Homo sapiens: one gene and its partners. The protein of the gene in region 3 purifies or fractionates together with the protein of the main gene of each other region. This does not show direct contact. Each region holds a gene or a part of one and is shown on either strand. Other genes may lie near its edges.

The links. The genes of interacting proteins can lie anywhere in the genome.
Region 1: the proteins of SLC16A14 (region 3) and SVIP purify together in Homo sapiens (affinity purification with mass spectrometry; one large-scale study listed by BioGRID and IntAct). This does not show direct contact.
Region 2: the proteins of SLC16A14 (region 3) and CLCC1 purify together in Homo sapiens (affinity purification with mass spectrometry; one large-scale study listed by BioGRID and IntAct). This does not show direct contact.

The regions. Positions count from the first base shown.
Region 1 is NC_000011.10:22,819,802-22,823,301, forward strand, and holds part of SVIP (small VCP/p97-interacting protein), read right to left. Parts: intron 3,333-3,500; coding exon 3,318-3,332; coding exon of another isoform or gene 3,311-3,317; 3' UTR 536-3,310; coding exon of another isoform or gene 515-535; 3' UTR 1-514. UniProt on the Homo sapiens protein: Negative regulator of the ER-associated degradation pathway (ERAD) of misfolded proteins. It competes with AMFR/gp78 for binding VCP/p97, and inhibits AMFR/gp78-VCP/p97 complex formation that is required for degradation of ERAD substrates.
Region 2 is NC_000001.11:108,956,985-108,960,484, forward strand, and holds part of CLCC1 (chloride channel CLIC-like protein 1 isoform 1 precursor), read right to left. Parts: intron 1-3,500. UniProt on the Homo sapiens protein: Anion-selective channel with Ca(2+)-dependent and voltage-independent gating. Permeable to small monovalent anions with selectivity for bromide > chloride > nitrate > fluoride.
Region 3 is NC_000002.12:230,048,425-230,051,924, forward strand, and holds part of SLC16A14 (monocarboxylate transporter 14), read right to left. Parts: intron 3,331-3,500; exon of another isoform or gene 2,425-3,330; intron 1,481-2,424; coding exon 1,337-1,480; intron 1-1,336. UniProt on the Homo sapiens protein: Proton-linked monocarboxylate transporter. May catalyze the transport of monocarboxylates across the plasma membrane.

The DNA of each region.
Region 1 (3,500 bases), on a different chromosome or scaffold from region 3:
ATGCAATTCAGGATATAATAACAAAAAAGTATGATATCCACAGGAGTAATGTATGAATACTTAATTTGTAGGCAATAGTTATCACATTCAAAGTCAATATTTGCAAGATGAAGCATAACTAGAAGAGGGAGACTAGAACAATAAAAAGCCATATCAAATGGGAAACTTAGTGTTTTGAGTTACTGGAACCAAAACTTCATCAAAGTCTGTTATACATACAAATGCCTTGTGTCTGTAGCTTTTGAGAAAATTGAAGAAAAAAGCCACAATACTATATTTGAATTAGCTTAGAGCATGTTTAGTAGTTAAGAGAATTTGAAATGCTTGCTTGGAGATGTTAAAGAAATATACCTTATGTCTCAACACATATAGGCAGTCATGGCTACTTACCTCTTACTGGTCTATTCATGCAGAAATTATTCAAAACTGGCAAGAGCTGCTTTTGTCTTCTAAGAACATAGCATAATGCTTATCAGTGAAAATAAAAAGTCAAACATTTGGAGAAAGGGAAAATTCAAAGTTCATGTCCATTTTCCTGGGGTACAAAGGATAGACAGAATTTTTATGATAGTATTATTTCTTTAGGAAAAAACAGGATACTAATTACATCATTTTTCCTTTATAGAAAATCCACCTATAAATCCAGGGATTGTATGAACACACCAAACAACCTTTGGTTCTGTTGCTCTTCTGAATCCCAATGTGATTAAAATGTTCCTGAGGTTTCCCTAACCACCAACTCAGGTTCTAAGTATTTAGGATGTAGTAAAGATAAAATTTTGTTAAAGAGACAGCTAAAGCTAATTTTTACATAGAAAAAAATGTATATTTATATCCCTAAAAGGCAATACAGAATTTATAACCAAACCATGTGTGAGAACTGTTAAATTACATTCCAAATACCAGCAGTGGAACAAACAGAAACACAGAGATGTTTTAAAAAACATGCAGCACGTTACAAAGAGGCCGTGTAATAATTCACAACTTTTGTTAGCAGCCGTTAAGTTTGATTAGTATTAAGCAGCAATGGTTTAAGCAATTTTAAATCATGATATGATAGTTACATATATGCATTTTACTGTTCCAATTATAGTTTAGTAATAGGTCAGGGGTTTGAGCAACATTTTAAGCATTATAATTTTCTCCTAAATTATTTACTATGGGAAATTGGCTTCCACTTAAGGTTTTCATAGAAACTGATGGTTATTTTATGAGGGAGATGTCTGGACGTATGTGTGTATGTGCATGTGTGTGTGTGTATATACACACACATATATAAATTAGAATTTGCAGATATTATGTGTATATATATACACACATATATAATATATATATTATATATATATATAATTTTTTAGTCATGTTTTTAGTCATTTGCTTTTTTTTTTAGTCATTTACCGGTTTCTCATAAGACATCCAGTCACTTCTTTTCCCTTGCCCTTTCCTAACACTGTTCCTAACATTTGGGTACCACCCCTTAGCTCCTGCGACCCATGTGGTTTTGGAGAAAGCTGATCACACTCACGGTGACAGGCCATGGTTGGAAGTAACATGTTCCACTTTTCACGAAAAGTAATAGATCTGAATATCATTCATGGTTAACAATAGATAGTGTGACATTTGGGTATGACCTGCTGGTAGAAATAGGGCATGATTCCCTGGAAGTAAGTCACTTACACCAACCCAAGTTCTAATTCTTTAAGATGTAGTAAAGACAAAATTGTTCTTGCTATATTAAAATGGAAGAAAGGATTTGCAGAGTTCAAGGATGATATGCTCTAGCTCTATATGCACTCCGCTATCAATCATTCCTTTTACTTTCTGCCTTGAAAAAATCATTTTAATAAAATCAAAAATTTTCATTCTAAAATATAGTTCAATGATTTCACTACCCTTTATGAACAAAAACAGCACGAATCCTCTAAAGAAGAAAATTGAGCCAAATTGTTATGTTTTGCCTAGATATTCACACAATATTTCACACCATAATAGAAAAAATAATTTTTCCATGAGAAGTCAAGAGACCTGTATTATATAATAGTTCAAACTTTTAAAAATTAACATGTACAATACACTGCAGTATAACATAATTTTTGTTGGAGGGGTAGATGAAGATAGTGGCTCAGTTTCCTTTGTGTAAAGCAAGTGAACTTGGTCGATTTAACTTAAAATTTCTATTAGCACTTAATATCTGCAAATTTTAATTTAGGGCTCAACATGTGGCCTTGCCATTTAAAAGAGCTATCAGCCTTAATAGCTAACACAAATTCTTTTATTTCAGTGTATTATATAGGAGAAACAAAAAATGCTATAAAATTCATGTTTCTAATGAACAAAAATGTTAAGGTTTATGACTATGCATTGTATAGAATTACCTAATATTTTTATATCTGAAGTAGACCTTTTGTAAGTACAGTACCTACATGTTTTTTTCATACATTCATACTTGCCTTCGCAGTTTCACATCTGTATAAATCTTATGATCGTTCTCTAATAAGTACACAAGATTAACACTACTTATGAAATATGGACAAATATATTACTACTCATTATAACCCATCCAGATTATTAGTTTAACTCATTCAATTACTACAAAGATCCTTACAGAGCTGAATTTAATATACAATAGAACATCACTGCCCTCTGATGGTATCACTAATATATAATTTTAAATTCAGCAAACAAAAAATCCTTTATCATAAAGTAAAACAGGGTATGTTAATTTTATAAGCTACATAAATAAAAATAAATTGGAAAAAATTTTACATCTGCCTAAGAATACTCATTACTAAGTTATAAAAATTTACAGTGCTCCTTCACATCAGCCCTTCAAATGATTTTTTCAAGATTCTCCCTGATGATCAGTTTAAAGGCACTAAGTCCATAAGTTTAATCAAACATCTTCATAGTGAAATAAAAACAGATGTAACGCGATGCAGCACAAATATAAGTAGTTAGATCATTTTATAAAGGATGAAAAGACAACTGCGAATTTTAATCTTAGAGGTATATGCAGAATGTTTACATGCAGTGTATGTATATTCACTATTTAGTTCCATTTTTTAACTACTAAGAAAAATAGCAAATCACCCACTAACTGCAGAAGAGCAAATGTAGGAAAATCAGTATTTAATGAAAAGTCTAGCCATTCTCTAAGCTTGAAAATCAACGTTTTTTTAGCATTGCACTTAAGGGCAATAATATTACAAAGTCTGAATCTTCATTTACTCAAAGAGAAGAAATTAAATTGATGAAGCCCACTTGATTGCAGATAATAAACAGTTATTGGCAGTAGATTCTTCTACTCATGTTATGCTTTATGAAACTGTCCACTAGAAAAGATAAAAAAGAGACAGAAAAGTAAATTTTACTTGAAGTTATATAACAGTACTTCAGTGAACAAACAGGTAAAAAGAGGAATATGGGACATAGAAATACAAAATGATTTTTCTGAATAGCAGCTATTCATAAAATTTTACATTATAGTCCAAAGCCTGAAA
Region 2 (3,500 bases), on a different chromosome or scaffold from region 3:
AGGGGCGTGATAGAATCTGGTTTACATTCTAAAAGACATTACTATGGCTACTATGTAGAGATTAGAATGGAAGATTATCAGGAGGTTAGGAAGATCTGTAGTCATCCACTTCAGAGATGAAGGTGACATGAGCTAAAGACAGCAGCAAAGGTGATGACAAATGGTCAGACTTTTAAAATCTGTAGGTAGACCCTACTACATCTGGCAAAATGACCAGCTAATAGGTCACTAGGCATATTTCTTCTTCCTTCTGGACAAATGATGACTGTATGTCTCAGCCTCTCTGTGAAGTATGGCCACGTAATAGTTAAGTTCTAGCCAACCCAACGGATAGAAGGGATATGCACCACATCCAAGTCTGGCCCATGAAAACCTCCCAGCTGCCCTCTCCCAACCAGGGAATTCCCAGGACACTGAGCCCTGGAGGAGGGCAGCCAAACTATGCAGGCACCTGGGCCCCTAAATGACCACCTGGAAGGCCACCCACTAAGTGGGAATATAGCTTTTCACTTTCATGTGAGCAAAAATTAATTTCATTTATGGCATATACTGAGATATAGGGGTTTATTTCTTATAACATCTCTTGCTACTCTAATACAGAAATACACTATAGAAATTGCTGAAAATTTGGATGTCGGTAAGGACAAGTGAAGATTTGGGACGATTTCTATGTTTGTGGCCAGGGCAACTGGGAGAAGGGAAAAGACTGAAGAAGACTGCAAGTTCTGAAAGATCAAGAGTTTTGTTTGGATATAGTAAATCTGAAGTGTCCACTGATGTCCAAGTAGAGATTATAAATATGCAGGATGAAGCTAAGGAGAGCAGTGGGACTACATTTGAGAACGATCAGAATGTAGACGGGGTTTAAAAGAGATGATCTGGGTAAGATCACCAGAAGATTTATTATGAGGACAAAAGACTGAGTCCTGGGCAAGCCAACATTCGGGGATCAGAAAGAAGAGGAGGAACCAGCAAGAGATAATTCTAGTGAGTGCTATGAGGCAGGAAGAAAACCAAGAGAGGTTGGAATTTCAGAAGCCAAGTGAAGAAAGGAGAGAGCAGACAAATATGTTGAATGCCGCTAAGAGGTCAGGCGATCAGAGGGCAGCAAACTGACCCCTGGATTTGGTACAGCAGCTTTAACAGAGAAAGCCTACCGGGAATGGTTAAAGGAATCATTCAGGTAAAGGTTTTGGATCAAGGTAACACAGTAACTCTACAGTGGTAACCCCATCTACGGTTTTGCTTTCTGAGGTTTCAGTTACCCACAGTCAACTGCAGTCTGAAAATATTAAATGGAAAATTCCAGAAGTAAACAGTTCCTAAGTTTTCAATTATGCACAGCTCTGGATAGTGTGAGGAACTCTCTTCCTGTCCTGTTCCATCCCACATGGGACGATGTCCACACTGTAGGTGTCACACTCCAGTCACTTAGTATCCATCTGGGTTACGACTGCTGTGGTATCTCAGTGCGTGTGTTCAAGGAATCTATACTTTACTTAATAATGGCCCTAAAGCACAGTAGTAACGATGCTGGCAATTCAGATATGTCAAAGAGAAGCCATAAAGTGCTTCCTTTAAGTGAAAAAGTGAAAGTTCTCAACTTAATAAAGGGCTGGGCGTGGTGGCTCATGCCTGTAATCCCAGCACTTTGGGAGGCCCAGCAGGCGGATCACTTGAGCCCAGGAGTTCAAGACCAGCGTGGCCAACATGGCGAAACCCCGTCTCTACTAAAAATACAAAAAATTAGCCAGGCATGGTTGTAAGCACCTGTAGTCCTGACTACTCAGGAGGCTGAGGCAGGAGAATTGCTTAAACCCGGGAGGCGGAGGTTGTAGTGAGCCAAGATTACACCACTGCACTCTAGCCAGGGCGACAGAGCGAGACTCCATCTCAAAAAATAAATAGGCCAGGCACAGTGGCTCATGCCTATAATCCCAGCACTTTGGGAGGCCGAGGTGGGCGGATCACCCAAGATCGGGAGTTTGAGATCAGCCTGACCAACATGGAGAAATCCCATCTCTACAAAAAAATACAAAATTAGCCGAGCGTGGTGGCACATGCCTGTAATCCCAGCTACTCAGGAGGCTGAGGCAGGAGAATCACTTGAACCCGGGAGGCGGAGGTTGAGGTGAGCCGAGATCACGCCATTGCACTCCAGCTTGGGCAACAACAGTGAAACACCGTCTCAAAATAAATAAATAAATAAATATATGAAAATTAGCCAGGTATGGTGGCACACACTTGTAATGCCAGCTACTTGAATGGCTGAGACAGGAAAATCGCTTGAGCCTGGGAGACAGAGGTTGCAGAGAGCTGAGAGCACACCACCGTACTCCAGCCTGGGTGACAAAGTGAGAATCCAACTCAAAAGAAAAAAAAAAATTAAAGAAAAAAAAGCTCATATGATGAGGTTGCTAAGATCTATGTTAAGAACAAAACTTGTATCCATGAAATTGTACAGGAGGAGAAAGAAATTCATGCTAGTTTTGCTGTCGCACCTCAAGTGAAAAAATTCCAGCCACAGTACATAACTGTTATTATTGTGTATTGTTATAATTTTTCTATTTTATTAGTTATTGCTGTTAATCTCTTACTGTGCCTAACTGATAAATTAAACTTTAGCAGAGGAATAGATGTATAGGAAATAACATAGAATATATACAAGGTTCAGTACTATCTGAAGTTTCAGGCATTTACTAGGATCTTAGAATGTATACTCCAAGGGTAAAGGGGGGACTCTATACTCCCAAAGCACTTCCCCAACTCCTACTCCTGGCCAAGATGGAGTAACAGGGACCAGATTTACCCTCCTGCCTGAACAACCAAAGCTCTGCACAAAATAAATAGAACAATAGTTTCTGGCCGGTTGTGGCGACTCACGCCTGTAATCCCAGCACTTTGGGAAGCCAAGGCAGGAGGAACACTTGAGCCCAGGAGTTCGACACCAGCCTGGGCAACTTAGGGAGATTCCATCTCTACAAAACTTGAAACAAAATTTAGCTGGGTGTGGTGGCATACGTCTATATTTCCAGCTACTTGGAGAGGCTGAGGTGGGAGGATCACTTGAGCCGGGGAGGTTGAAGCTGCACTGAGCCGAGATCACGCCACTGCTCTCCAGCATGGGTGACAGAGCAAGACCCTGACTCAATTAAAAAACAAACAAACAAACAAAAAACACTAAAATCACTGTTATGCTCTGGAGATACTTAGAAATACTGAATAACTGTATACTTTATTGGAAAAAATTAAGAGTTCAACTAAGGAAGAAAGCCATGGAAGAAGCAAATACCAGAGAGGAGAGTGAAGGCTAATCAGGGCAATAGAAGACAAGCCAAAATATGCAATGGGCAAAAACTAAGGAGGGACTTAATTTCAAGAAAGTGGTATCAAGCGTATTCAATACTTCAGAGAAGTGGAGAGGAACAAAGTCTGGAAAAAAGCCATTGGATTGGTTAATTAGTTGGCCATTTATGACCTTTCAGAGAATGACAGTGAGA
Region 3 (3,500 bases):
GTGTGAATCACACTACCTGCTGATAAAGGAAATTGTGGCTGGGAATATATTTTGCATAATGGATATGCAGATTGTGGTGGCTGGCAGCCAATATTAACCTGTTCACTGGGAATGACAACCTAACTGTACTCTAGATTTGCTTCTTCGTCTCTACATATATGTGTGGTTTATGCTATTTTATGAATTTGAACAGGGCTAAAAGAGTAAATTATTATAAGGCCGGGTGCTGTGGCTGACACCTGTAATCCCAGCACTTTGGGAGGCTAAGGCAGGTGGATCACCTGAGGTTGGGAGTTCGAGACCAGCCTGACCAACATGGAGAAACCCTGTCTCTACTAAAAATACAAAATTAGCTGGGCATGGTGGTGCATGCCTGTAATCCCAGCTACTTGGGAGACTGAGGTGGGAGAATTGCTTGAACCCAGGAGGCGGAGGTTGCAGTGAGCCAAGATTGTGCCATTATACTCCAGCCTGGGCAACAAGAGTGAAACTCCATCTCAAAAAAAAAAAAAAAAAAAAAACAAATGATTATTAAAGAGTAAATGAACGTTATTGGTTTCCTTAATCTTTTTTAAAATATTTACTTATGTATTTATGTTTTTTCTTTTCTATTTTCACACAGGAGGCTTTATTATTATTATTATTATTATTATTATTATTATTGAGACAGAGTCTTACTCTGTCAACCAGACTGGAGTGCAGTGGTGCAATCTTGGCTCACAGCAACCTCTGCCTCCTGGGTTAAAACTATTCTCATATCTTAGCCTGCTGAGGAGCTGGGATTACAGGCAGGTGCCACCGCACTTGGCTAATTTTTTTTTTTTTTTGTATTTTCAGTAGAGACGGGGTTTCACCATGTTGGCCAGGCTGGTCTCGAACTCCTGGCCTCAAGTGATCTGCCCACCTTGGCCTTCCAAAGTGTTGGGATTACAGGCGTGAGCTACTGCCCCTGGCCTATTATTTAGCTTATTTCCCACACCACACTGATGTAATTTCCTTAATCTTTGGTCCATTCACCTAAGTCAACGTTACTGCCTTCCTTTTCCTATTCCTCACTGGAGATAGCATTGGCATTTAGAACCAGGCATATGGAAATATAATTTGATTCTCTTAGGCAGGCCAAGTTTTGCTGTTAGGTGGGCTCCCCCCACTTAAGGCATATTAAAATGTAATGTTAAAATGTATTTCCAGGAGTGTAGGGAGGGGTTGGGGTGAAGTGGGGGGGAGGAAACAGAACAGAATGTTTTAATGTGTCTCTTTTCTCCACAATTAAATCCACTGCCAAGATGTCTTATAAAACATTTAAAATCGAGTTTAAAAAAAGCCACATGCTTACCAGCTGCGACTCCAAAAGTAATGAAGAGATAATGCACGTTTGCAGCATAGGCACTCAACACCCAGCCCAGGGAGTTGACGAGCCCTCCAATGATCGCAGTCTGGCGGCACCCACAGGTGTTAATGAACAAGCCGATGAAAGGGCCTGTCACAGAGCATTGGAAAAGGAATTGACTAAAGGTGCTTCCGTTTTATTCTTTCTCATAAATCTTCATGTGAAGACAAAGAATAAAATGTCACTAGAGCTGTTAAATGACACAAAAAGCCCCCATTGCTTTATATGCCAAACATTTTTAGCATGCAAAGATGATTTTAAGTAATTTCATCAGAGAGCACAAGGTTCTGGATTTTCAGGAAAGGCAGACCTGAAATAAATAGACATTCATTCTTTCATCTACAAGAAAACCAGTGGTCTAGGAGCTATCTCTAGCCTGTGGATACATTTTGTCGATCCCATACAAAGTCTAAAAAATGTCTGGAATTAGTTGCCAATGTTTAAAAATTAAGAGGATTCACAAAAAGTCCAGTGGCAACACAGACTACCTTCCCACAGGACCAAAGTTAGTTGGAGCTGTGCAGTGGCTGAGCCCGTTTGACTGGGACACACCCCTTCCAGTTTGCTGCAGTCTCTATCCTTCCCTCTGGTCTTAAACCTGGCCTCAATTACATTATTTCTTTGGCTTCTTTCCAAATAGAAAGACATTTCAGTTTTTGACTAAAATAGAAATATTAAAAATGTATTATGTATAATGAGGGAAAAAAAGAACTGTTATCGGGTCCTTCAATCAATGGTTTTTAAACTATGCTTCAAGGATACAGAAGTGCTTTATGTGTGTGTCTGTGTACAGACATATATTCCAAGAAGCAACTTGGGGATTTATATGGACGGTAGGTTATTATGTTCACCTTCTCCTCCTATCAAAAGATACATACTTAAGCTTATATGTTTTACATAGGTATCTATATAACCATATTTACCTGTTAGCTAACATTTACTGAGCACTTTGCTAAGTGCTTTATACAAATTATGTCATTTAATGGTTTAACAACCATGTAAACTAAGCTCTCTTCATTATACCCATTTTGCAGATAAGGAAACTGAGACCAAAAGGGAGTACAGGAAGGGAGTCTTCAGAACTCCTGGGCTTCAGGCAGAAAACTAATAGCCTGTTTTCATGAGGATACCCAGATTGAAACCAAGCTGAAAAGAGCTAGTTGTCATCACTTCATACAGACTCCCATCCCGGCTGGTGTGCACAGTCTCTGACCAGACCTATCAGGCTATGGAGATTCGGGAATCCATTTCCATTGTGTAAAATGTGACAACACTCACAGCAGCACAGTATTTTATGAGACGCATTCTGATTGTTTCCTTTACGCTGACTTTCTAGTTTTGTTTTGTTTTCTTGTTTTTGTTTTGATACAGGGTCTCACTGTGTCATCCAAGCTAGAGTTCAGTGGTGTGATCACGGCTCACTGCAGCCTTCACCTCCCTGGGATCAAGCGATCCTCCCATCTCAGCCTCCTAAGTAGCTGGGCCTAGAGGCTTGTGCTATCATGTCCTGCTAATTTTGTATTTTTTATAGAGATAGGGTTTCGCCGTGTTGTTCAGGCTGGTCTAGAATTTCTAGGCTCAAGGGATCTGTCTGCCTTGGCCTCCCAAAGTGCTGGGATGACAGGCTTGAGCCATGGCACCTGGCTGACTTTCTAGTTCTTAATTGTCAACCTTCTTTATTCTCCTCCTGATTTTGTAGTAATTTCTGATGTCACTGAAGCTGAAAGCTTATCTTGTGATCAATGATTCCTTGTTTAAATAGGAATCCAGATTTATATGAGCTAGTACTCAATATTCAGTAAGATGGCATATTTTAATTATCTTATTTTTGATCATTACAAAGTTATGAAACCTTATATGCAGATGAACTATATTAAAAACTTGTTTAAAGAGCTTCCCTTTTGGCTTAAACTGAAATAAAGTTTCCTTTAAAGTTCTAACTATATTCATGTGTATATCTGGGTACAGTCAGCTAATGAGTTTATTTTGTCTAGTGGTTTTGTGGGTGCCTAATCCTAAAAACTATGAAGGTGAAGACTTATTAATTTAATTAACTCTGTTGCATTACAGGAAATAATTCAGTAAATTAACTCCTTAGAATAGACTTAAT